2 linked regions of the Homo sapiens genome follow. The protein of the gene in region 2 interacts with the protein of the main gene of each other region in a pairwise test. Each region holds a gene or a part of one and is shown on either strand. Other genes may lie near its edges.

The links.
Region 1: the proteins of SIPA1L1 (region 2) and NRXN1 interact in a two-hybrid assay, tested with the Homo sapiens proteins (one study listed by BioGRID).

Annotation. Positions count from the first base shown.
Region 1 is NC_000002.12:51,029,092-51,041,282, reverse strand, and holds the start of NRXN1 (neurexin-1 isoform alpha4 precursor), read left to right. Parts: upstream 1-9,150; 5' UTR 9,151-9,302; intron 9,303-12,088; 5' UTR 12,089-12,191.
Region 2 is NC_000014.9:71,661,733-71,678,369, reverse strand, and holds part of SIPA1L1 (signal-induced proliferation-associated 1-like protein 1), read right to left. Parts: intron 7,252-16,637; coding exon 6,678-7,251; intron 6,023-6,677; coding exon 5,748-6,022; intron 1-5,747.

The sequences.
Region 1 (12,191 bases), on a different chromosome or scaffold from region 2:
GGAAAATATTAACAAATTGAATTACATTAACATTTAAGTTTTCTGTTTATCAAAAAAATGAAGAAGGAACAAAGGTTAATTACAGATGGGGGAAATATTTTAATACATATAACTGCACAAGCAATCATACCCGGAAAATGTAAAGAGTCCCTACAATTGATTTTAAAAGACAAGTAATCAAATTATTTAAAAATGGGCAAAAGACTTGAATAGACCCTTTTTAAAAGAGGATATCCTAACGGCCTATAAATACATGAATTAGGTACCTAACATAATTGGTCATCTGGAAATTAAAAAATAAAATGTTAATGAGATAGCAGTGAAACCAACTAGAATATCTAAAATTAAAATGATTGATAAATTTTTTTGGCCAGAAAGAGAGAAATTCTCACACACTGTTTTTCAGTGTATAAATAGTGACAACTTTGGAAATCTCTTTGTCAACAACTACTAAAATTAACCCATGACCCAGCAATTCCATTCCTAGGCATGAACCCAGTGGAATTGTGTACATATTTGCAACAAATAACATGTACAATGTTTATAAGACATTATTTGTAAGAGTCCAATACTGAAAACAATACAAATGTTTATCAACAATTGACTAGATAAATATTGGTAAATTTATAAAACTGAATTCAACATTGACAATGAACAAAATCACTGCTGCATGCAACATGGATGGATTTCACAAACATAAAGTTGAACAAAAGAAGGCGGACACAGAGTAGAACATACTGAATTATACCACTTATCTAGATAGCAAAAACAAGCAAAATTAGTTTTGGTAGTTTGAAATCAAGTTATTAATTAAATTTATGGAGGAGAGAATAGAAAATGACTAGAAGGAATAGGAGTTTAATATTCTAATATTTTATCTTGGTGAAAGTCATAAGGGTATGTTCATCTTTTGAAATTCATCAAGATCAAGACTTACGTTTTCTGTCTTGTATTATGTTATTTTATAATAAATACGTTTATTTAAACATACTGCCAGTATTAAATCACTAGAAATCTAGAATATTCCTTTTTTCTTATCCTAACATCCTATTTGGAAAGCAGGTTCACTTTGCACTGGTTACCAACTTGTCTGAGTTTGATGAGACAGAGCACACTCATAAACAACAAGTTACATGATGGAGATTTATTATTTACAAATCGGAAGCAAGGGACAACAGATGCCTGGGATCCATTGTAAACAGGTCCCCCAAGCCCCAAGAAAACTGCCTAGAATGGATGGAGCCTTGGCTGTGAGTGGCCCACTTGCCCCACAGCTGACAGACCTTAAAAGGCAGTCCGCCCTGGGTTATATATCTAAAGGGCCATGGAACTCACTGGGCAACAATTTGAAGGACGTCCTACTTCCTGGAGAGAGAGGAGCAAAGCCTGGGCTGTCCCAGGCAGTTAATTCATAACTGAAGATGTTATATTTCCTAGGGGGAACAGGAGCCAAGGCCTGGGCTATTTCACGCATTCCTCTCTATTTCAAGATATTGCATTCTCAGCAAATTCTGTCATTATTCTTGAGAACTAGAAGAAAAAGGCAGGGGGAACTCAGTGCATTAAAAGCTTCCTGGAGAATTGTCCCGCACTATCCAAGATTTATTTCTACCTAAAATGTATCGAGATGTATCTGTTTAGGGTGACGTATTCTTGCTGTCTCTATTGTGATTTCTCTTCTTATATTCAATTTCTCAAAAAGTAGACTCTAGAATAATGTCTGTATCTTATATTTATAGTTTTCTACATTTGAAAAGTACCACAATAGAATGGTACAGTGAACAAGAATATGGACTTTAGTTTCAGAAAGATTTGGTCCTCACTCTATCAGGAGCGGTCTACAAGTTTGAAGGCAAGATGGGTAGCATCTCCAAGCCATAGTTGGTTGAAAGACAAAGAGAATGAAAGTGAGAGCAAGCCTGTGTGTGTGTGTGTGTGTGTGTGTGTGTGTGTGTGTGTGTGTGAGAGAGAGAGAGAGAATGTCTAATTTTCAAGGTTGTAATGGATAAAGAAATATATATGTAAAATCATCTGCCAAATGGTCTCTTATAATAGTATTATGCATAACTATATTTTTCCATCCTCTATCATGCATCCTGTACTAGTTTCCCAGGTTTATCATAAACTATCACAAATTGGGTGGTTTAAAATATAACTGGGTGGTTTTTATAACAATAAAACATTTATTCTCTCGGAATTCTGGAGGCTAGAAGGCTAAAATCAAGGTGTCAGCCAGGTTGGTTCTTTCCCTAGGAAAAATCTGTTCCATGCCTCTCTTTGAGTAGTCTGCTGGTTGCTGGCATTACCTGGCATTTCTTGGCTATATAGTTATATCACTGCAATTTGTCTTTGTCTTCATGATTCTCTTTCTTATATCTCCTCTGTGTTTTCAAATGTGTCTCTCCTTTTAAAGATGCCTGTCACTGGATTTAGGGCACACCCTAATCCAGTATGACCTTATCTTAATTTGATTACACCTGCAAAGACCCTATTTCCAAATAGTCACATTCATAGATAAGGTGAAGACTTCAACATATCTTTTAGGGGGACAATTCAACTCCCAACATATATCATGCAGGTACTACTATAGGAGAAGCTAAGAGATTTGTCTCTGTTGCCATACAAAGCAAGTAATAAGGCTGCAGCTAGAAACACATATAACTCAGAATTCAGTGCTTCTTGTAACATACCAAACTACTCAAAACAATTATCTTCATGTTCTAAAGGTCAACTTTTAATAGCAACTGTACTGTTTTATCTATCCTATGTGCTTGGCTGAATTTAGAACATGTAAATCAATCTTTTGAAATGTTTACTAGAGAGAATAACCACCCATGATTATGAGTTTGCATGTGTACGTGTATACAAAGCTGTGAAGGGAACAAACTGGTAGGCTGTGTGCCATTTCCAACCAGCAGAGAAGTCTATTTTGTCCTGCACAGTATTGTGGTAGTAGTGGTGATTATTTTTTAATAAGCCAAGATTTTAAAATCAGAAGATTTTACATAACATTTCAGATTTCCAGCTGCTCTTGTAAAATCGTAGGATCTGGCAACACCAGACTCACATGGTCACAAGCTGTTGCGGCCGCAGAGTGAACGCCATTTTTAGAGAAGTATGAACATTTTAGGTGTCCACACTGTCTGCCAATCCTCATTGTTTTCCCAGTTTGCCTACCTCACTCATGTATGTCAAACACCAGACACTGTTAAGCATTGCAGTCTGCTCTCCTTGTTCTAGAGAAAATTAAAGTGCCTCTACTGTACTATAACTTCATTCAATGGGATGTGTACATCAAGCATATACTTAAGGATGTAGTTTATTCCTATTTCACTGATCTTCTTTCCTCAGCAAGAGAAAAACTCTTATCAAAATAAAACTCTTCCCTATTCTGCTTCACGAGTCTCTTCAAAAACCTAAGATTTTTTTTTTTTTACATAAAATGCGGGTATTATTGCTCTAATTTGTGAAGTTACAATAAAATATCTACAACTTTCTGTATTCTTAAGATATCTATCTCTGTGGGTGTCTGTAGTATTAAATGAAAAAATGTAAGTAGGACAAATGGATGAGAAAGGCAAACAAAAATGAGAAGAAAACTCTGAAAAAAAAATGAGGTTTAAAGCTATATTAAGTAGGAGGAGGGCAGTAGCTGGAAAACTGGTAAGAATTGAATATTTTTAAAAATCCATAAGCCCAACATAAAATCAAATAGGATGTGTTTTAAAAGCAAACCACAAAATGTTTCGAGATGCCATCACAGAAAATTGATTCCACAGATTTCTAGGGGGCAGAAATAGGCTAAAAAGAAGCAAAGATATTATAATAAGACTCTTGAATTTCACTGACATCCATAACTCATCACAAATCCCTTGCTCTTTTCTTAAAAGTCATAGTAAGGAATATTAAATAGCACTGGCTAAATTAAACAGATTAACTAGTTGCAGGCACCCAATAAAAATAAATTGGAAGCCACATTGTGATGAATGAGATAATTCCTTTTCTGGAGCCTAGCAGTTGAGAATGGCAGGCTTGAGTGTAGAGTTAGGTTGTGGGGAAGAAAGTTCTGTTCACAAGAAGAGAAATAAGTCATTAGAGGGGGTAATAATGACAGGCTGAAGTGTGCAACTAAATCACTGATCGAGGAAACATAAACCCTCTGGCAGGGACTTTTCACAGACTTCATCTAGCGACAGCTATTCTTCCTCAGAAAGATTTTTCCTCATTGTGGGGGAAGGAGGGGTGGAAGTAAACACAGAGGAACACACTCAGGTGTAAGTGCTGCCCTAGATTTAAAAACACTGCCCATCAAACACGCTGCAGGGTTTCCACATTGAAGCCTTTCTAGCAGGTGCATCGTTCAAAACTTAACTACTGTTCTCAAGGACCTATCTACGTGCTTTCTCTACTGCTGCTTGATACCTTAATAATTATCATTACATTAATGATTTGCAGCCATTTTAAATCACATTCTACCTTCTGATTACAGAAAATTTACATACTCAAGGAAAAGTAGCCTAATTTTACTATGTTTAAGATTTTTTCAAGTAGTAAGAAAGTATTTAACATACTGAGTTTGCTTATTTCTCCTGAAAGTTACTTAGTAAGCTTAATAGGAAATTATGTGTCTTTTTGTACATGTAAATCCTAGTCTGTTTATTCCATTTTATAGCTGAGTCTCAAACCCTAGACTTGATTACATTTCCTTGCATTTTTAAATTCATCTAGTTGTAAAATAAATTTTATATGGCAGCATGTTCAATATCTATTCTTAAACTTTTGTAACCAGAAAACTCTAATTGGTTCATATAAAGAAAACTAGAGACATTTAACTGCAAACAAAAAATGGATTATATTATTAAAATAAAGTCATGAGCTAAACAATAGAATTCCAATTGTGCAGCACTGATAATGTAATTGGTTAGAGAAATTTGATAGCAATCTGAAATTTAGTTGAATTAGCACGTAATATTTTCCTGATACTGTGATTATTTTAGTAAAAGTGGCTTCATTTTGATCATCTATAGGACAGTAAATAGAAAATCCCCTCAGCGATAAATCTTACTGTTTTTTTTGAGTTGTTTCTCATCTTAAGTGAAAATGCATTTAATGTATATCAACTGGTATTTTTCCTCATTGTTACCATGTGTTTCTTCTTCTACCCCTTATATCAGTAAAGCACCCTTCATAACTGATATCAATATTGGAATTCATAGGTATCTCAAAGCTTCCACTTTACCTTAATGTTAATTGAGAAAGTAGGTGTTTACATTGATTTCCTAATGTTAAAGCACAGGGTCTGATTGCAGCAATAAACACAGAGCATCTCTGCTGCATTCGTTTCTCAGTCAAAAAAAATCTTACTACTTAGTTTCATTTATTTTTAGTGTAGCATTAGTCTCCATGTTAGAATTCTCATTAATATTAATAACCTATGGAAATATACTTGCTTTAGGTGAGCATGCATTTCCATTTTCATTGATGCAAAATGTTTACCAGTTTATGGCATGAGATATTATTTATGTTTCCATATTTGGGTTGCCACAAATTCTCCCAATCAGACATAATCATAAACAAGCACCTTGATTTCGCAGTTACCTCATTTGTTCTGAGTGGTAGCTAGGGGCAGGAGTTGAAATCCTTAACATATTTCTGTAGCCTAAAATTAGTAGATTCCCTAAGGTGATTCAGGAGGAATTAATCCTACTTCCCACCTTCTAGAAAAATACTAGATTGTTCTTACAAATGTTAGATTGCTTCAAATTCAGATCTACAGGAATCACCTCACATCTTGCCCAGAAACAAACAAAAAAGGTAGTAACATTGAAAACACGTCACCTATAATATGTAACAAAGTACATGAATATCATATATTTCATACAGTATTAGTCATTAAGGAATGTTATGGCAAAATTCTGGAGTTGACTGTTTAGTTTCCTAGACTCCTCTTGATGAAAGTCTTAGAAAGGAAAAGGAATGAACAATTACGGGCATCTGCATTCTGCCAAGCACTTTGCTACGTATATCTGATGATCCGTTCAAAGTCAGTGTAGCAAGGGGGTTAAGATTACAGAATTGAGTTTGGATTTTTCCTCACACTGTTGCTTGCTTACTAGACTTTGACTATCTGGACTAATCTCTCTATGCTTCACTTTTTCTCATTGGTAAAATGAGTGAAATCCTAGAACCTACCTCTTAGAGTTGCTGTGAGGTTAGAATAAGTTAATGTAAGTAAAGCACTTGGAGCACTGTTTGGCGAGGAGTAGGCACAAAATTAACATTCAATGTTGACATTATCTCCACCAAGTCATATAAATGGAGATGCCATTATCTTTATTTTACTGATGACAAAACTGCCACTTAGAGAGTTGAAGTAATTTATGGAGAAACAACAGAAAAACTCATACTTTAAAATAAATTAACAACTTTTATCATTAAATTATGTTGTGATATTTGCATTCTAAGCTACAAACTGATACTTTTCTCTATGCATATTTACTGAAAAAAAAAAGATCCTGGGGCTGTCCACTTCCTTGGACTACATACAGTAAGTACCTTAAACCTGATTGCAAAGGGGATTACTCCAATACATCATCTATTCCTTCAGTTTATATAGTTTGTGTGTGTGTGTCAGGGAGGCAGTGGTGAAGAGATGTGGGAACACTGGTCTTTTTAATCTGAAAATTCACACATGCAGCATAAGAATGTCAACATTTTTTTTAAATCAAAACACCACAGAAGACATCTCAAGGAAAACCTTGATTCAGTGGAAACACTGTGTAGCCCAATTAAAGATAAAATAAAAATTCACAAAGACGAAATGAAATAAAGTAGGAAATTGTTCAGATCACATGCACTGGTGGTAAATAATGAGTTTTTATGAATCCAGGTAAAAGGCAGTGCTTTGACTCTTAAGAGTGCCTCTAGCACTACCATAATGTTCACTGATGCATGTTCACACCAGATCTTAAGAGCATCATGGAACCAAGTTAGACTTGATTTTTGAAAGTGGGCTGTCCATTCCACTTACTTTTGCAATAAGCTTTAGCTCTATACTAAACACATCGCGGTGTACCTTCTGTACTATTTGTCCTATAACCTAATGGTAGGAAAAATTGAAAAAGGCCCTGAATTAACTAGACTGTTTTTTTGTTTCAAGTTCACTGAATGAATAATTTAGATAAGTAATTTTCTGAGTCTTAGTTTTACATCATTTAAAATTAAATTTTTGTTTTAAGAATCATGTTAACAGCTATTATTTCATTACATTCCCAAAGCAATCTTATGGAATAAGCTGACAATGACTAATACCTCTATTTTATAGTCAAAGAATTCGAGTTTCAGAGAAATTCCTTCCATTGAGTCAAACAGAACACAGAGTGGGTTGTAGTTGATAAATATAGCCAAAATTCCACAATTTGGAATCCACAATTCCAAATATGTTATGTTTATTTATTCATTTCATCTTCACAACATCAAACACATGAAGAGGGAGCTATTATTATATCCATTTTACAGATGAGGTGACTGAGGCAGCATAAGATTAAGTATCTTGCTGAGGTTACAACTAATAAATGGCAGAGATTGAATTGAAGCTCAGACAATCTATTTCCCAAACATGTAACCACTTGACAAAACTGCCTCTCTAAGGGCGATAAACATATTAAAACCTGTGATACCCGCCTTCAGGTTATTTAGACCCTTTTACAAAAGTAGTGAAAGTATAAATCGGCTTATCATAGGAATGAGTTCTAGTTTTTTGGAAGAATATACATATTGTAATTGTAATATATATTATTTTGATGTTCCCAAATTTATCTAGTTCTTAAATTCTTGCTCTATAGGGCCTGGAGGCCAAAAATAGTCTTGCCTTACAGTATTTGAGGTTCAGACTATTAGGTCTGTGGCGTTGCAATAAAAATGTCTGTATCTGCTCCAAAACTAACCCAGGCTAGGAATATACAGGAATAGGAATTTAAATGTCCATAGGGTGCAAACCATAATTTAAAGCCACAGACCCCGAACTCCTCTACCACCTAATCTGTAAGCTCCCTTAGATTTAACCCCTTTCTCACCAAACCCAGCAATGCCTATTGGGCATGCCCAGTTGCATGGTTAGAGCCTCACACCCAGTTTTACTTTCACCAGGTTTTACCAGCTGCAAAAGGGAGGAGGAGACGGAGGGAAGAGTTAAACAGGTAGAAAACTTGGTTCAAGACAGAGCACAGAAGGCTGGAGAATGACGACAGGCTGCAGTAAAAAGCACCTTGTCAGACACAGTTGATCGTCGTCTGCAAGTTGGCATCTTACCCTGGTGGGTTCCTTTTACATCTTTTTGGCACAGCCTAGGCAAGTCATGAAGATTTGTTGTGATTACCCAAGGCAGAGCCACAGTAAGGGGTGGGGCAAGGGACATCGGATCTAGAAGAATGCCAGTGCCTGTGTGAGTCTTGCTTGCCCCTGCATTCCTCGAAAAGCTGCAGCTTCTTTTCAAGGGTTCCGAGCAGGAGACCAAGGTGCACAAGTAAAGCCAGAGCTCATCATAATTATCGACTCCTTGGCCCCTTCTCTTTGACTGCTGGACCCTTTCCTGGCACCCTCTCAGGTATCCCCGCCCAATCACTACCAAACCCCGGAGAAGTGGAATCTCCATACAGCTTTCCATGGGTCTAGCAGGGGCCTGGGCATGCTCAGTAGGCTACGTGGTTCTCTGGTTCGTGTTCGTTCGTTCTCTCTCTCTCTCTCTCTCTCTCTCTCTCTCTCTCTCTCTCTTTCTTTCTTTCCGATGGGGAAGAGAGGGTGGTGACAAGTTAGAAGCGCTTGCGGAAGGTCCCCGCCCCCAGGATCAGGCTCCCCCTGCAAGGGGACGATGCAAAGGTAAAAGCACCTCGCTCCGCAGCATCCAGACCTGGAGGGGCTGCGACCACGGGCCGAGCCCACCCATTCCCCAGCCAAAGGACGGGCCCGCCGCTCTCCATGGTACTGCGGAGAGCTCAGCTCCGCCCTTCTCTTTCAGAAGGACAGCACCCGGCGTCACGTAACCCAGCCTTCTCAGGCTCCACCACCGCCTTTTCCTTCCCAGCTCTTTCCCTCTCCTCCCCCTCCTCCTCCTTCTCCTCCTCCTCCTCCTCCTGCTCCCCTCCGTTGCCTGTTCTCCCCTCCCGCACTCCTGGAGATAGACGCTCAAGCCTGACGCCTCTGAAAAGGCAGCAGCAGTCGCCTTATCCATAGACCTCAGGAAATTCGCTTTGACCGATGCATGCTTCAGGCTCTGGCTCGAGCTGAGGGGAATAACCGGGCAGGTAAAGAAGCTCAATTTGGGTTGGGGGGAGGGGATGGGGCGAGGCAAGCTGAAGAAGGATATCTTTCCCCATTGTAACTGAGCCAGGATCTGCCACAAATACACAGGGAAAGATGGGTGGTGGGAGGGTGGAGGAGTGTAGATCTTGGTTGTTTTGCATGAAGCCTTTTAAATAGATGGCAAGAAGAGATGGTGGAACTGGGGTAGTAACTTAAAGGCTGAATGCAGTGATGTATTAGCAAAAGAAAGAAAATAAGAGACAGGCTAGATATCAAAGCAATAAAATATCTCTCCATATATTTCCTTCCCTACCTCATCAGCCCCACACTGTGCCCATCGTTAATTTGTGCAGTAGACCCCGAGCTCCAAGAAACTGCACTGGTATTAGAGATGGAGCTTAGAGACTGGGCGGGAAAGCCAGAGAGAATTTTGGCTGTGCATTGGTATTGAGAGACTTTGCAAAAGCCAGGGGTGAAATAATAAGCACTTCTAAAATTTCTCTCAGAGATTTCATGTTCTTTATGAAGATATATATATATATTGAAGGGTGCATGGAAAGGTGTAGGTGTGTATGTGTGTGTGATATCAGAAACATTAAAATATGCAACTGCAGCCGATGAGCGTACTGTATTGATCCTCCTAGTGACTTGGGATGAATTTGATTCTAGAAATGAAAGAAAAGATTAATGATGCTGTTAGTCTGCTTTTGAATTAGAGCGCTTCTTCTTTTGGCTGCAGTAAGGATGTTTTTCAGATCCCTTTATTTCATCCTCTAATTTGTGAACTGGCCAGGTCTTTCTGGCACCTAGAGAGAATCCTCTTTTCTCCATATAAATACAGATACTCGCTCACATACAATGAGCTTCCTCCAAGAACTGGGAAAACCAGTTAACCTCCCTGTGATAAGAATGTATATATATCTATATGTACATATATATTGCTCTACGGTTTTTCTCTCTTCCACCATCCCTTAAAATTGTCAAGGTGTGCATTAGTGGAGGAGGGCAGGAGGGACGGGAGAAAAAAGGTTATGTGATCAATGTAACATTAATTAATACAATAATTGGCTCCAACAGAGTTACACACACAAGAAAAAAAAAAAGGTTTTCTAACACATGAGCTTGAGAAAGGGTTCAAAGCACTACTCTTGATCATGATATTCCAGATTTATTTTGCAAATGACTGAAAATTTAGCAGATTCCTGAGTCCACTTAAAATATGAAAGTATACTGAATAATATGCTATTTCAGATGATTTGACGAGCCTCTTTCCTCGGGTTTGATATAGGAGAAGACAAGATATGACTGGTGATTGCTGATGGTGTGGAATGTATCAGCCATAATAAATAAGCAACTGAGATTTTTATTTCCTTTTGCTAGTGGGCAGTGTGTATGTGCGCACACCCACACTGTGTGTGTGTGTGTGTGTGTGTGTGTGTGTGTGTGTTGAAAGAGAGAGAACCAGTCATCAATTTCATCTGGGAGGAACTTGAAGTGGGATACCCTAGCTTGGTGGCTCTCAGCTGACACCTGTGGGGATTGCTCTGTACTGAAGAGAAATGCTCTCAGCTCCCCCCATGGAGAAGCAGCAGCACAATGCGGTGCCATAAATTACTGCTAGTTTCAGCTTGTAAGGGAAAAAAAGTGTTAATTGGGTAGTGAGCTTCTACATCCAGACAATAAATTTGGGGTGTGTGTGTGCATGTGTGTATGGTGTATATATATTGCAGTGTGTGTGTTTGCAAGAGGTGGGGAATATAAGAAATAGTGAGAAAAATAATGCACTTCCTTGACATGAACAGATTATACATTTGTAATTTTTTTCAAAAGGTAAGAGTAATTTTTTGGTTAAAAAATGACTTAGGAAAAAAATCAGTGATTATGATTTCTGTACCATTTCAAGAACCTGTCAGATTAGAGTTGAATAAAGAGAAGTGATTTAATAGTATAGTGAGTGATTCAAAGGTACGGTTTTAAATTCTAGCATCCTGGAGCCACTGCAGCTGAGATGACATACATGCCAACAGCTCTTCTGACCACACAAATTGTGAGGGCTGACAGCAAGATACAGACTTCAGGAGGAGTTAGATCTACACTTTTAGGCAAAATATTAAATACTTTATGCACCTTTAGAGAAGTTAATATTAGGGCAATTGAGACAATGCCAAAAACATAAATCTGGCTCCAATTAGTGGTTTTCTTTTACAACAGATTATTCATTAATATAAAGGAGAACTATACTTGTGTGAAATTTTGCAAGAGACTATCAAGAAACCATCAATATTCCTTCTAAGAAAAATAAAATGGCAGGAATGCTATACAAGTCTAAGCTGGCAGCTTCCTGCCAACAGTTTAATCTAATTTGCCAATTGTAAAATCTCTTAACTGAGATTTGAATAGGTTGTATTTTTACTGTCCACAGAACAAGCACACAACATAGGTAGAAATCCTTAAAAGCATTTGTTCTCCCCTCACATATTTTAAAAATTAAACTATCTTGCGAAAAGAAAAAGATAACCATAATCAAATTTCTCTTTAAAACTTCGGGTTACCAACTAACAGTTATAATAAACTACAAGGGTGTCATGGCTGACTGTAAAAGTGTCATATTAACTATTAGAAAATGTTAGGACTTACTTGTAGTGAGGATAACAAAAGCTCCATACAAGAAGGTTAACTCTTTGCCTTACTAATAGGACCAGGTCTACACTTGTGTTATGAGCTGAATAATGATTTATATAATACTATATTGACTTTAGACCTTAATTTTGACTTTAATTCTCTGCAGATGTCTGAGTCCTTAAAAAAGACAAGATAAAACCAAAATGCATCACCAACACACAACCAATTGATGTGCTGGCATCTTAGCTTGGCCCTGCAGAGGCAGAGAG
Region 2 (16,637 bases):
TGACAAAATTCAACAGCCCTTCATGCTAAAAACTCTCAATAAATTATGTATTGATGGGACTTATCTCAAAATAATAAGAGCTATTTATGACAAACCCATAGCCATTATCATACTGAATGGGCAAAAACTGGAAGCATTCCCTTTGAAAACTGGCACAAGACAGGGATGCCCTCTCTCACCACTCTTATTCAACATAGCGTTGGAAGTTCTGGCCGGGGCAATCAGGCAGGAGAAAGAAATAAAGGGTATTCAATTAGGAAAAGAGGAAGTCAAATTGTCCCTGTTTGCAGATGACATGATTGTATATTTAGAAAACCCCATCGTCTCAGCCCCAAATCTCCTTAAGCTGATAAGCAACTTCAGCAAAGTCTCAGGATACAAAATACAAGTTCATATGGAACCAAAAAAAGAGCCCACATTGCCAAGACAATCCTATGCAAAAAGAACAAAGCTGGAGGCATCACGCTATTTGACTTCAAACTATACTACAAGGCTACAGTAACCAAAACAGCATGGTACTGGTACCAAAATAGAGGTATAGACCAACAGAACAGAACAGAGCCCTCAGAAATAATACCACACATCTACAACCATCTGATCTTTGACAAACTTGACAAAAACTAGAAATGGGCACAGGATTCCCTATTTAATAAATGATGCTGGGAAAACTGGCTAGCCATATGTAGGAAGCTGAAACTGGATCCCTTCCTTACACCTTATACAAAAATTAATTCAAGATGGATTAAAGACCTAAATGTTAGACCCAAAACCATAAAAACCCTAGAAGAAAACCTAGGCAATACCATTCAGGACATACGCAAGGGCAAGGACTTCATGACTAAAACACCAAAAGTAATGGCAACAAAAGCCAAAATAGACAAATGGGATCTAATTAAACTAAAGAGCTTCTGCACACCAAAATAAACTACTATCAGAGTGAACAGGCAACCTACAGAATGGGAGAACATTTTTACAATCTACCCATCTGACAAAGGGCTAACATCCAGAATCTACAAAGAACTTAAACAAATTTACAAGAAAAAATCAAACAACCCCATCAAAATTTGGCAAAGGATATGAACAGACACTTCGCAAAAGAAGACATTTATGCAGCCAACAGACACATGAAAAAATGCTCATCATCACTGGCCATCAGAGAAATGCAAATCAAAACCACAATGAAATACCATCTCACACCAGTTAGAATGGCGATCATTAAAAAATGAGGAAACAACAGCTGCTGGAGAGGATGTGGAGAAATAGGAACACTTTTACACTGTTGGTGGGAGTGTAAACTAGTTCAACCATTGTGGAAGTCAGTGTGGTGGTTCCTCAAGGATCTAGAACTAGAAATACCATTTCCCAGACATCCCATTACTGGGTATACACCCAAAGGATTATAAATCATGCTGCTATAAAGACACATGCACACATATGTTTATTGCGGCACTATTCACAATAGCAAGACTTGGAACCAACCCAAATGTCCACCAATGATAGACTGGATTAAGAAAATGTGGCACATGTACACCATGGAATACTATGCAGCCGTAAAAAAGGATGAATTAATGTCCTTTGTAGGGACATAGAAGATGCTGGAAACCATCATTCTCAGCAAACTATCACAAGGACAAAAAAACCAAACACCACATGTTCTTACTCATAGGTGGGAACTGAATAATGAGAACACTTGGACACAGGAAGGGGAACAGCACACACTGGGGCCTGTCATGGGGTGGGGGGAGGGGGGAGGGATAGCATTAGGAGATATACCTAATGTAAATGATGAGTTAATGGGTGCAGCACACCAACATGGCACATGTATACATATGTAACAAACCTGCACGTTGCACACATGTATCCTAGAACTTAAAGTATATATACTTAAAAAAAAAAAAAAAAGGAAAATGCCTGGCACCTAGTAGGGGCTCAGAAAGTTTGCTATACTGTCCCTGTCCTTTCTTCTCTTAAAAAAATTGTAGTTTGGAAACGATTCATAAGGGGTCTGCATATTTTCCAAGAACAGGGAAGAGAGCCTTGTTTTACATGTTATTTTATTTATTTATTCTTATTTTTTTGAGATGGAGTCTACCTCCGTCGCCCAGGCTGGAGTGCAATGGCACGATCTCAGCTCATTGCAACCTCTGCCTCCTGGGTCAAGTGATTCTCCTACCTCAGCCCCCAAGTAGCTGAGACTACAGGCATGTGCCAGCACGCCCCCCTAATTTTTTTTGTATTTTTAGTAGAGAAGGCTGGTGAATCATTTGAGGTCAGGAGTTTGAGACCAGCCTCACCATGTTGCTCAGGCTGGTCTCAAACTCCTGACCTCAAATGATTCACCAGCCTCGGCCTCCCAAACTGTTGGGATTACAGGCTTTTACATGTTATTTAAGTACTACTTTTTTGTTGTTGAACTATTATATATATTTTAAAAGCTGCATTTTCAAAATGAATGACTCTCCCATGTGAACACACAAATCCATTTGTGTTTGTATTAGATCCTGGGGGTGTTTGTATTACATACAGTCATCACCTCCCGCACCCCCTTGCTTGTGTCCCTCTCTGGGTCCTGGCGACCCTAAGAACCACCAGGCTGAGGGGTAGAGGAGCAGCTTGCCTCAAGGAGGCCTGTCCTGCCTCTCGCTGCAGCTGCAGTGACTGGTGGTGAAGTCCCAGCTGACAAAGAAGAGAATGACTATTCAAAGAACAGAGTAATTAGTTGCTACAAAAACAGCAGTGGGAGTGTGAAGTGCGGAGGAGAAGAAAAAAATGACACAAGAGCATTATTCTATTTTGTTGAAAATTGTAACAAGGTGTTAATGCTTCAGCTGTTCCCTTTGAAGTTATCTCTAAAGAAAGGAGAAAGGAGCAGGCTTTCAGCCCTCCAAAGGCATCAAGGCATTTCCCACCTGCCCTGCCCAGGTCTGACTTTTCAGATGGAAACTGTATGGCTTTTCAGATGGAAACTGTATGGCTTTTCAGATGGAAACTGTATGGCTTTTCAGATGGAAACTGTAGTGAAAGGGGCCCTGTGTCTCCCTCCAGGCTGGTGGGGCTGTGCAGTGCACTAATCCTTCCCCCAGCCTCCCCTCCTGGCACCCAAGTGACATGTCACTGGCAGCTCCACTGGCTCCTCCGGGAAGGCCTGAGAGCGTCACAGCGGTGTGACAGCTCATTCACTCCCTGGTGTGCTGGAGCTGGTAATCATCCCATCTACCCCAATGCTGCCTGCAGTGACATCACATCGGTAGCTTGGAACCAGCCACAGTGGGAGTATCTGCACCATAGAAATCAGCAAATACTACAAATAAAGTTTTCTTCACCCCAGCAGAAAGCCAACTCACCAGCACATCACTGCTGATTCTAGTGTATAAGGAAAGGATCTGTGCTCTAAGCACACAACGTGGCAGTTCAGAGCCTGGACTCTGATGTTAGACCTAAATTTGTCAGATGAGCTTAGCAAGTTACTAACCTTTGAGTCCCGGTTTCTTTTAAAACAGGAATGCGGCCGGGCGCGGTGGCTCACGCCTGTAATCCCAGCACTTTGGGAGGCCGAGGCGGGCGGATCACGAGGTCAGGAGATCGAGACCATCCCGGCTAAAACGGTGAAACCCCGTCTCTACTAAAAATACAAAAAATTAGCCGGGCGTAGTGGCGGGCGCCTGTAGTCCCAGCTACTTGGGAGGCTGAGGCAGGAGAATGGCGTGAACCCGGGAGGCGGAGCTTGCAGTGAGCCGAGACCCCGCCACTGCACTCCAGCCTGGGCGACAGAGCGAGACTCCGTCTAAAAAAAAAAAAACAAAAAAAAACAAAAAAAAAACAGGAATGCTACTAACACTATCACAAGAGAGGGTTGTTATGAGAATTAAATGCACTAACCCATAAAAAAGTGCTTTTTTCAGGGCCTGGCATATTAAGGTAAAAAACTCAGTATATTAGTTATTTTCACTGACACACCACAATATATCTAGTCTAGTATTCCTCCTATCATGGCTCCATCTATCCAGGATCAGGCCTCTTATCCATCTTTCTAGTAACAGCTATTTCCAATTTCGATGTCTGTACTGTTGTCTCATCCCACCCACAGTCACACAAACCCATTTCCCTCTCCTTTCCCGCATATAAACCTGGGAGCCTAGATACAAGGGAAAGACTTCTGAGTGGGCAAGATGGCATCATAAGGTCAAGGGCTCCATATTTCAGTAGACGGTCCTTAGACTAACATCTGTAACTCTTTACTGTAGGTAATTAAGGTTGACAATTTACAAAGCTTGGCTATCTTCTCCCATTTATAATTGTCTGTTCAGAAGCAATAAAGTAGACAATTTGAAGGAGAGACAGCAGAGAAAGAGACAAGACAAGGAATGCAGCAAGACTGGAGACTGTCATAAGCAAGAACCCCACTGCCTTTCTGAGCCACCTCACATTATTTTTTAAATCACAGTTCAGCACATTACTTAACATTTAATGATGATATGCTTGGGGAAACCAGAAAAGGCTAATAAGGTTCATTAGACCTGGTTAACTAAGGCAGGGTATGTGGGTAGGGCAGTTTCTGAATATTTACTCCTCTCCAAAACAGGTGAAATTAAAAGTTCATATTTTGATTTCCAGGGAAATGCAGTCATCCAAAAGGAAGTTCTTCAAACTATCAGACAAAGGAATTTTTCTATATTTTGACATATATACATAATCCCTAGGCCATCTAGGAGGTAAGCAGTATTAGGAAATACTATCCTGAGCAAAGTATATAAAACACACACACGCACACACACACACATATATATTTGCTGCTCTTTACTTTTTAAAAGACACAAATAGCCTATCATAACCATTAACTTTCTACCATCTGATATTCACAAATCCATGAGAGCTCAGGTGTAGGACTGGTCATCTTAGTGGCAAAATAGGACACAGAACACTGTCTTGGCTTTAGAAAGCCTAAGAATCAATTGCCAAAGCTTAAGAGAAATTCTTAGAAAATAATGGCATAAACTAAAAAGAGAGATCTTAAAAACTAGCAAAAATAGCATGTGCATGTCCAAAGGAGAAAATAAACAGTTGATTAAATTTCTTCCACCAATAAACCTCCCCAGAGACAGAGAAATTAAATTTTCAACAGTGCTGCTGGCTTGGCAGGAGCTGTGGGGGGTTGGGTGGGGCAGGGAGCTCTTAGGTTTTCCCTTCTGGAAAAGACTAGGAACCAAAATGCCAAAGCACCATGAGCAGGGGCAGCTCACCTGAAGCCAAACCCTAGCACATGCAGATACAGTTAGGAAAGCAGCTGCCAGACTGAGACAGCAAAGGTCCAAACAATTGCTGAGTTTTGGGCAGCAATTAGGAGAGAGAAGAGAATAAGAGCATCATGGAACATAGAAGAAAAGCAATCTGACAATTTGAGATGTTGAGTGTCTTTTAATGTTCAATGTGTTCAATGTTTCTCAGCTCCCAGTGGAAAATTCTTAAGATAGATATTACCAGACTTCTCTATCTGTCATGGCAACTTTATAAATCCAGTGATGTAAATCCTGGGAATGGTCCCATTTAGTCACTCTTTCCAGCTGCTGTCACCACACACTGAAAGGGAGCTTCGTCCTGAGTCAGACTCCATGGATGAAACATTCAGCATCACATGTAACCTATTGTTCTTCACAACACCCTACTCCACTACCTGCTAAGAGATGTTCTACATGGTACACAAACCCTGCACTCGAGTCTCAGGCCCACAGCTGTCTCCTCAGACCTACCTCCGCGGGGTGCAGTCATCATGCGGGGGAATGATGACAACCTTCACCGTGACAGATGTTCTCAGGAGGTCGATCATCTGCTCATGGCTCAGAGTGGCTACCGCCACCTTGCAGATCTCCACCAGGCGACTGCCCTGCCTCAGCCCTGCCTGCCAGGCATAACCGTAGGGCTCCACATCCGCCACAATGCCCTCATAGTTGACATGGAAGCCAAGCTGTCCTAGCCCATTTCTTCGCAGAGTCATCTCCACCGATTCACAGCCTTTTGAAACAAACTAGACAAGGAAATAAAAGATACTGTGGTTTAAAGCAATAGGGTATTAAGTGGTGGACATGGAACTGGAAAATCATTGCAAGCAGGGTTAGTTCTGAATACCTTATTGCCAGCTGAAGAGCAGTCTGGTTATTTCCTCTTCACTAATCTCCTATTCATTAGGCCAAAAGGAATATACTTGTTGCATCCAAAAAGCTCAACGGCTTCCCTGAAGTTACAAGGAAACCTCTACCAGAGACCTACAGGGAGCTGGCAGTAAATAGAAACCATATACTGCTACTCATTTAGCCTTTGTAAAATTCAAGGCAGCAGATACTCAAGCAATTCTTTTCAACACCACCACCAGATGACTGGACTGCAGCACCAGGGAACAGGTCACATGCAAATGGGTTTTGAACATGAACGCACACACACACACACACACACACACACACACACACACACACAGAGTAAATGTGTCTTCCCCAATTTGTTCTACTTTTCCGAAACATCCATGGAAAACACAAGCATGAGATAAACTCTGTTTGCTTCACACATCAAGGGAGTTTTCAGAGGAGCTAATAACAGAGCACAAGGTTCAGTAACTTGGCTCTAGTCTGTATTGAAAACTTTATGAAAGAGAAACTGCATGTAAGGAAGAGGAAGGAGAGACTCACCTGCAACCTTTTGACAATCTCTTTGATCTCCTCAATGTTAATAAAACTACCCACTGAAACACATTCTCCTCGTTCATAGAAGATTTTGAGGCTGGTGTCAGTTGAAGTCCACCCTATCACATCTCTACAGGAACAATTGAAGACCACGCTCTTTGTTTCCTGTTCAATGAGCACAATGAACTCATTGGAGATCCCTAAAAGGCAGTCTAGTTCCATGGCCTTGTTGTAGTCTTCAGCCCGGACTGCCCATACAATGGCCCCCATGCTGCTGAGCTCGGCTCCTGGATATGGCTTAGACTTTTCCTTCTTCTTGGAAGCCAGAGAGATGAACGGAAACTTGCCAGAAGGGTCGATAGGGGTGTTGGTGACATTCTTTTCTGCCAGATCTTTCAGGTATTCCTGGCGGGTCCGAGTTGCCATGGCCCGAAACTTCTCCGATTTATGAGCAGCATTTTCTGCATTAATCACTTTCGCCAAAAGGAAGTCCCTGAACACATTTGACTTAGGGAAAGTGACCCCTTTAGGAATGGGAGGCCCAAAGGAAGGCACATCTCTGGACCTGGTAACAGCCACACTGAGAGACAAAGATCAAAGAGAGCCACGTCAGTATTTCTCAGTCTCACAACATCAGAATAAAATATACTTTCTCAAAGACAAAGATGTACCTCAGATACAAAATAGCTGCTTATTTTTCCATGAGAAACAACACACATTTCTGCTTAATACGAGTATATTTTTTCATTCTACCGCATTTAGGATTTACACAACATAATTTTTTTTCTAGGCCAAAAACAAACCTCCCAAAATCCCAAAAGCTAACACTATTAACTTTTTTTTTACCAGACAGGAAACTGACCAAAACTCCATGAAAAAAAATAGGTTTACTGTAATATTCTGTGTAAGACATTTTAAATACCTACTAACTGTTTTCAAGGGAGGTTACTGTAACCACATCATCTTTCAGAACAAGCATACATTCTGTGAGAACACAAATGTGTTCTCCATTTTAGATATGATGGCTATAAGCAGACAGCTTACATTGAAAATATCAGAAGATGCATGCCATAAAAGAAATGAATTAAATTTCAATAAAACTTAACTAGTATTTGTTGGCCTAAGTGTGAGGCATTATGCAACCAGATTAAAAGCATAATTTTAAAATGAAAATTGGAATCTGAGTAATAGTATGAGAATCTTTATGTAATAGCAACAACGCTTTAAAATCATATTTTTAAACTGAGCTATTCCTTGGTCCTTTTGGTATTTTATTCTGATAATCTATTTCTAAGAAAAATATTTTCCTTCTCCCATTCCTTTAAGCAAGATTGATATAAGAAAGCCTGTTCCAGTCATTTCTTCTGACTATATATTCCTAAAATTGGGCCTAAGAAAAGGATCATATGAACATTTGTAATAACTTATTATTTTTAACCTCAAAAGGAAAAAAAGTAAGTTTCTCCTAAAACAACAAAGGAAGTTGTTGATATAGAAATAGAGAGGTTGAGTGTTTTATATCATTTCCCAAGATTTTAGTAAAGTTTGACATGACTGGAAATGATTCTAACACATCGAAGATCGCTCTTTCCAAATTAAAAGTGAACAAATTATGCAATTATACTTAGTATTAGGGAAACAATAAAAAAATCGGTTTCTTCTGAACTCTTGGAATAGAAATGGCATCATCAGAGAGTATGCATCTTTCAAATAAAATTGAAGAGCTCTGTTTCACTTTTTTTTCTTTAGGAAGGGTTTGCTTTAAGATATTCAGCTTTGTTTTTCAAGAAATAGTTATTTCTTGTGAAAATAAGAAAAATAAAAATCAGCAACCTCAGGAGGCAAATTATATTTCTGGTGGAATGGAAAAGCTACATGCTCAGAAGATGCCATGGGATGGCCTATCTGTTGGTTTTACAAGTGTATTTTTAAAAGACTACCTAGTTCACTTCATGACAAAGAACAGTGGCAACCAACACTCCATTTTCTAACTGGAGGAGAGAATTCAGAGACTTCCATATGGCTTAATTATACCAATATGTATTAGGAAGGCAATTTTTCTTGTCTATTGTGAACTGCCTGACTTGAACGCTGACAGCTGTATAATTTTAATTTGATCGTGTTATTTTTCTCTTAAAGTCAAGCAAAAGATGCTGAAATCCAGGTTTGCTAGATTTTTCTAAGTGGAATCCTGTAAGAATCCAGAAATATTTAATATCTTTCACTTTAAAATTGGCAACTTCTCATCTGCTATTTCACTCAAATTGTTATTCCTTCTCAGAAAATATCTGTGATTTTATTTTAAATAAGGAGAGCAAAATGTTTAGCAGGGGGTGTGATTTTAAGCACCCTCCATCTACTTGCCCCTTAAACTAACTGGCTTTCTGCAGATCCATTTATTAATTGATAGAACTTTAGACAAACATACACTGAAAACCTACCAATAATTAGAAACAGCTATAATGAACTGTGAGGAAAAGAACTGAATCCTTACCATATAATTTTCAATGATTCACTGTGGTAGGGAGGTAAATGATACAGGCACTGAAATCAGCTTCGCATAGTCAGAAATAGAATCCTTACAGAAGATGAGGAAGATGATACCCTGGAATGCTCTTTTCAAATAAATGATTTTGTTTTGGATAAATCAAACTGGCAAGGTTTCTACAAGGTTAAAAGCTCATTAATTTAGATGCCACAAATTCTGAACTCTTGATAATAAGGCCTGGTTTAAGCTAAACAGAATATTTAGAAAAAAAGCCTTTCTAGAATCTCAGTTTGCTGCATGTAGTTACTTAAGATATATTAATTATAAACGGTTCTTGGTATTTTTAAAAGCAGATTCCAAAGGGCCTCTGCTTGGCTGTATGTATATTAGCCTAGTTGGCAATTCTGTGTCTTCTTGGAAATAATACATGCTTTAAAATCATAGCCATGCTTTATTTACCCAGCATTGTTGAGGACTGGAATGTTCTACTCAGCAGGGTTATCTAGATGACAGACAGACAGAGCTAGAGGCTAAAACAGTGATGGAAAGTTATCACAGGAAGGGAACTTAACAGAACTCAATGTTCCTCAAATTCTTTCAGTAAAATCTTTGGGTTTCATTTGAAAATTCACCTCGATTTTACATTCTACTGAAAAATATTTGTGTTCATTTTCATATAAAAATATCTTCTCACTCCAAAATCTTTGGGTACACTGAGCGACCAGGAAGGTGTCTTGTTTGTATTCTGTGGTTTGACATCTTCATGAACCTCCGGTTGAGCAGCTGGTACAAATTCTTCACTTCTCCAGGAACAGATACAGAGAAGTAAAAGGATTTACCCAGATTTGTTAGAGAGAGCCAGGATTGGAATGTAAGCTTCTGGACAGCCAAGAGAGTGCTCCACGACAAGCCCACACTTACTCCCTCTGAGGAAGTGCTTTCAAACCTCCTACTCCTGAGGTGCCTGCTAAAAGGGACCATTCACATGGGTCACATGGCCTAAGAGATGATGAGGCTATTTCTACTCGATATGGGCCATGTAACATTGGTTGGCATCAAAGAGCTTGAATGAAATAACAAGTGTTGATACCCAAAGCCAACTTCAAGCTGACACATGAAAATGTTCCAAAGACTTTTTTTTTTTTTGAGACGGAGTCTCACTCTGTTGCCCAGGCTGGAGTGCAGTGGCGCGATCTCGGCTCACTGCAACCTCTGCCTCCTGGGTTCAAGCAATTCTCCTGCCTCAGCCTCCCCAGAAGCTGGAACTACAGGGGCCCGCCATCTCGCCTGGCTAATTTTTTGTATTTTTAGTAGAGACAGGGTTTCACTGTGTTAGCCAGGATGGTCTCGATCTCCTGACTTCATGATCCGCCTGCCTCAGCCTTCCAAATTGCTGGGATTACAGGCATGAGCCAACACGCCCGGCCTGTTTCAAAGACTTCTGAACAGTTTAGTGGATAAAAATTGAGAAATATAAGACATTTGAACTTTGGAAGCACAATGGAAAAACAGCAATAATCAACAATCCCCAGCCCAAAATTTAAAAGGAAGGTGATACAGAAAACATCAAATGGGAGAAGGAAGTTTCCTCTTCTTGGAGCCTGAATCAGATTACTGGCCAGGGCAGCTTCCAAGAAAGCAGATCTGGGCAAAGGACAGGAAAGATCAAACACGTGCCAATCATTCTCTCGATTTCTAATAGTATTGATCCACCAGTCACTGAGTACCTACTATGTGCTAGGCACTTTGCCTTTGCTGAGGATCAAGGCTGAAGATGTCCCGGGCTCAGCCCTCCAGAAACTCAAAGTCTGGTGGGAGCCACAGCCAGTGATTTGAGTCTCCTACTTGCGAAGTACAGGGTGCTACTGGTAGCACTTAGGAAAGGCACTTTAGTCCTGGGAGGTCCAGGGAGCCTTCTCAGAAAAAAGAAAAGCAGGAATTCATCAGATGGAGGGAAAGGGGAATGTGTGAGAGGAGCAGCATGTGCAGAGCGGAGGGGCAGAGCATGCTGTTCTGGGGAGTGGTGAGTAGCTCCAAAGGAGTGAGGTAGGCATGGGGTGCAGACTGGTAGATGAGACTGAGAGACAGGAGGCCAAACCTGAAGCCCCCATGCAGTAAGCTATGCTTGCAAGTCTGAACTTTCCTCTAAATGCTTTTAAGCACAATAAATGACATAATCAGATTCTTGTCTTAGAAAGGTCAGCTGCAGTGGACAATAGGGATGCTGATTAATTGAGGCTTGAAATAGACCTTCTGAAAGAAATTTCTATCACTTGACCTACTTGGATTTTTCTTCTTCTCAGCTGAAGCTTGCAAATTCTTTTTTTTTTTTTTTTTTTTTTACAGAGAGGAAAGAGGATGAACACAGACATTTAATGGACATGCATCACGCTTCCTCCCTGCCTATGCTAGACATTTTACTTAATAGGATTTTAAGTGGATGTCAAGCAACTTCCCACTGCACTGTTTAACAATTTGGTCTAATTCCAAGTGCTTTTTGTACTATATCATACAGATTCCTTTCAACAGTTATTACATTTTAATTACCGGGTATGGAAACCTCTCTGAGAGGAGTAACACATATTTCTACCTTCCTAAACATACCTACTGACCACAGTTTAATATTTGTTTTGAACAATCAGGGTCCTTGTTATGACTACTTATTACTATTTTAGTTTTAAAATGAATAACAACTCTTTTATTTCATCAAATAGTGTGTCAATGTTCCAATTTACAATTGTTTAGGATGTCCTAGGATTTTCTTTATAGTCTTTTTGTCTAAATTGGGATCCAAATAGGATCCACACATTGCAATTAATTTAGCTTTAAAAAATGTTTTATTCTGTAGATTCCCCTCCACTTCCTCACTATTTCTTGCAACTTACTTGTTGAAGAAATGGGGCATTGTGTCTGCAGAGTTATTCAGGGTCTGAATTTTGTCAACTACAAACATGTTCCTCTGTCTTTTGTATTTCCTATAAATTGGCTTTTCTGGAAGCTTGATCAGATTCAGATTTAATTTTTTTTAGGGGGTAGCAAAAATAATTCATAGGTGAGGTTGTATTCTTCCATTATGAGGCACATATTTGTCTCTTTTTATAGTATTTGCATCCTTTGATGATCAATGCTTAAATCCATTAATTCTGTAGTTGTTGAAAAATGGTATTATCTTACACTGTGTTTCCACAGTGAAGCCCTCAGGAGTGACTGAAGCACACAATAGTTCCCCCTTATCTATGGTTTTAACTTTCTGTGGTTTCAGTTAGCCGTGGTATAGTACAGTGAGGTATTTTGAGAGAGAGACCACATTCATATAACTATTATTAAAGTATATTGTTATAACTGTTATATTTTATTAATTACTGTTAATATATTACTGTGCCTAATTTAGAAATTAAACGTTATCATATAGGAACAAACATAGTATATATAGGGGTAGGCACTATCCATGGTTTCGGGCATCCTCTGGGGGTCTTGGAATATATCCCCAACAGATAAGGAGGAACTACTATATTTGGCTGTTTGCCCCAAAATCAAATGGCCCCAGATTGCTATGCTTATTGAATTCATATCTTTGATGTGAATAGTTTTTCAGCATCTCTTCTATCAATAAACAAGTATTTGTTTCCAGTATATACTCGCTATTAACAGCTCCTTCTTCTTTTTTTTGCTTCTAATCTTCTCTATCAACTGGGATCAGATAATTAAGGTCACTGCAACGATACAAATAAAACAATAGAGACTGGAGGGCTCTCATCAGTTATGGGATAAGCTTTAGTATGCAGACTTAGTGACTGATTTCTGAGTTCTTGGCTACATGATGACTCACATTAACTGGCCTCTGGAATTAGTCTGAATTAGTCAGTTATTCCTATATAAGCTTTCTAGTCCCCAGGGAGGTATAATACCACATTATTTTGAGATCTCATGTCTAGATCCACTATAGGGATTTTTCTCTCTTTGTTCTCATGTTATATCCCAGGGTCCAGAGTAGTGTCTAGCACATATATGCTAAGGGCTGGATAAAGAACTAATGAAAAATAAATGGATAATGACAGTCTCCAAATTTATCTTTCTGTGTACAAATTACCTAGCATGGTAACACTGGATAATTTTTCCTGGAATTCTACTTATGTAGTGTTGAATTGATGGCCTAGCATTCTGGAGGCCTCTACTGCCTGGTCATCTTTTCTGCATTAGTAGGCCTTTTTATTGTACTTTCCATCCTCCTTCCCATTTCTAGGCTTCTGTCCTTTCCACTGACCACTCCTAGAATGGTTTCTCTTTTTCCCATTGAATTCCATCCAGCTATGCTTTAACACACACATCAAATCCCATCTTCTCATAAATATCCATATAACTTCAGCCTGTAATGACCCCACACCTCTCCACACTATTACTGCAAGACACTCTTTCAAGGAAACTTCTCCCCTTTCCACAGTTCAGATACCAGGTAGGTGTAAGTAAATAAATATGTGTGTTCATGGTGGAGAAAGTTGGGACCAAGAGGTTTTAAATGCTAAAAAGCACTTGGGGTACAAAAAATAGAAAGAATGAATATGACCTAGTTATTTGCTAGCACAACAGGGTGACTATAGCTAAAAATAATTTAATTGCACGTTTAAAAATAACTAAAAGAGTATAACTAGATTGTCTGTAACACAAAGGATAAATGCTTGGGGTGATGGATACCCCATTTACCCTGGTGTGATTATTATGCACTGCATGCCTATATAAAAATATCTCATGTAACCCAAAAATATATACACCTACTATGTACCCACAAAAATTTAAAAATTAAAAAAACTTTAAAAAAGCATTTGAGTTACTCTAGCTATATCACTTAGGGATAAAATTAAATTAGATTTAAATAAAATGAGTATAAATCAACCCATGTCTAAGTTTTTCCACCAAACCACCCCTAATAAAACAGGCCTATAAATTCATATCCCTAGTAGTTCGGGGAGTGGCTGGGGCTTGAGAAAAATTCACAGGTGTAGAAATTCTTTGAAGACCCATGTTTTATCTGAAAACTGATATTTTCCATTCTACCTCATAATACATTTATTTTCATGAGAAAATAAGCTCGTCCTTACCCTGCCTCCCCCCAACATTAAAGGCTTGAAGAAAGGTGTCCTGTTTATTCTGTGTCTTCAAACACTTCCTGACATCACCACATACCTGAGGAGGTGTGCCTGCCTCTTTTGAGAAGGATGGCAAAAAATTATTGATCTTTAAAGTTTGCAATAGGCATAGGTCACTGCTCTATAATCTCTTGTGATTTCTTTCAGTGATGTTACAAACTAATGTTTTCTTGGATTTATAAACAGGCCAAAATTCACAGCTTAAAAGCTGTGTGTTGGGCCTTCAAACAAGCCTGGTAACTAGGAAATTCCAGACCTGCCCACATGTCTTGAGCAGGGGTGTTCAGTATCCCACTTCCCGCAAAGACTTCTAGCATTAAATGATGGGGTTCAAACGGTGGGCTCTCCAGGCAACAGATTAAAAATAAGAGAGAGAAAGCAAAAATCCTAATTTTCAGGGGAGGGATGATAAAAATAAAAAAACAAAGCACTGAAGAAGGAGAACATACCTCCCTGAGCAGTCTGTTTAGACTTGTGTGGTTCATTACAGTGGCCACAGCCAGCTGTGGCTATTGAGCACTTGAAATGTGTCTAGTGTGACCAAGGAATATCAAATTATATTAAATTTTAATTAATATATGATTTAAAAATGGATACTTAATTCTGTTATTTTAAAGATTTTTAAAAGTCCATTTGGAAGAATCTAGGTATATTAAATCTACCTTTTCATTATAAATTTTATGAAATCTAAATATACATCAAGTATCACCAATGAAAATTTAGCATTCTAATTGAGATATGCGGTAAGTCTAAAATGTACTTCAGGTTACAAAGACTTAGTCCAAAAAACCATGTAAGATGTCACAATAATTGTTAAATGCTGAAATCACATGTTAATTCATGTTGAAATAATATTTAGATATACTGAGTAAATAAAATGTATAAATTGGTCAAAAACAGTGTCAACATTAATTTCATCTATATCTTGGCACTTTTTAAAAAAATCTGGCTATTAAAAAATGTAAAATTAATATGTAGCTTGCATTATAGTCCCATTGGACGGTACTGATTCAGACAAAGGCTTGAAAAGAAGAAACTCTCTTTAAAAGAAACTGCATAGCTTTCCACTCCCCAAACTTTGAAGTGCCCATTCAAAATGGGCTTAACTTTCTACCTGTCAAGTGGTATGAAATCCTTTGCATGAATCTAGTACATAGCATGTTTTAACTGCTCAGAGTATTTTCTAAATGCAAATAGTTATCCATCCCAATTATAGTCAATTGTTCTGTGCTTTCATTCTACAACTAACCAGAGCAGCTCTCAGACACCATTTCCTTGATAAGAGGTTTCAGATCTAGGTCTTCATTGTTGGGGGTTCTGCCCCAACCCTAGGAAACTACAGACCTCCCTGGTCTTGGGTGTTCACCTAGGCTCAGCACCTGAAAAGTTCTGGAACAGCCTCTGTGTTGGGAGCTCGGAGTGAAAAACCCAGCTTTCCCAGCATGTAAGAGAGGCGGCATAGCAGCGTGGTTAAGAGACTGGGCTCTAGAATCAAACTGACTGCATTCCTGTCTAATTCTGCTCAACACTAGCCAGCTAACCTGAGGCAAGTGACCTGGCTGAAATTTCATCATCTGAAAATGGAGATAAAAGCAGTACCTACCTCATAGGTTTTAAAGATTAAATGGGATATACATGTAAGATGTCTAGAATAGTTTGGGGCTTATAACAAGAGCTCAACCAATGCAGTTATTAGGATATGTGCAAGGATGGTGACAGCCAGCAGGAGACCAACATAACCTCTACTTGTTTTTTTTCCCTAAGCTACGCTTACTCTACTCCTAGAATTAATCTGCCTTACTCCTAGAAATATACAATTGTGGATCTCACAAACTGTCAATGTGCACAGGTCACTTTCTATGCAGGTAACATTTTTTAGGGATGGAAAGATACGCCAAATGTCCATATTTTGAAAGGAACTGATGCACATTAAAAACATCTTACAAATGCCAGAACATTACCCTTACACATTCTGGCACTACACCCCTATCGAGCTAGCGTGACAGGTCCCTATCTCCTTCAACTCCTAACTCTAGTATTCTTACAAGAAAGGTCTCTGCAGATAGAGGCCTGAATTCTGATACTCATGTGACTACGTCAACAAGTAACACTGAAACAATTTCAATAATGCTAAATAAAGTATAGAAGCGTTTCTAAGCTTGTAGTCAGAGTGCTAACGTGAATCAAGTAAGTCAGAGGCAAGGATTTAGGCTTCTTTAATAACAATGCTTTTCAAAAAATTAACTTCTCTTCCCTATTTATTATAATCGTTCTTCTCTGCTCTTGCCATGCCAAAAGAAAAATATAATTAGCAATATGAGTAATTAGTTGGTT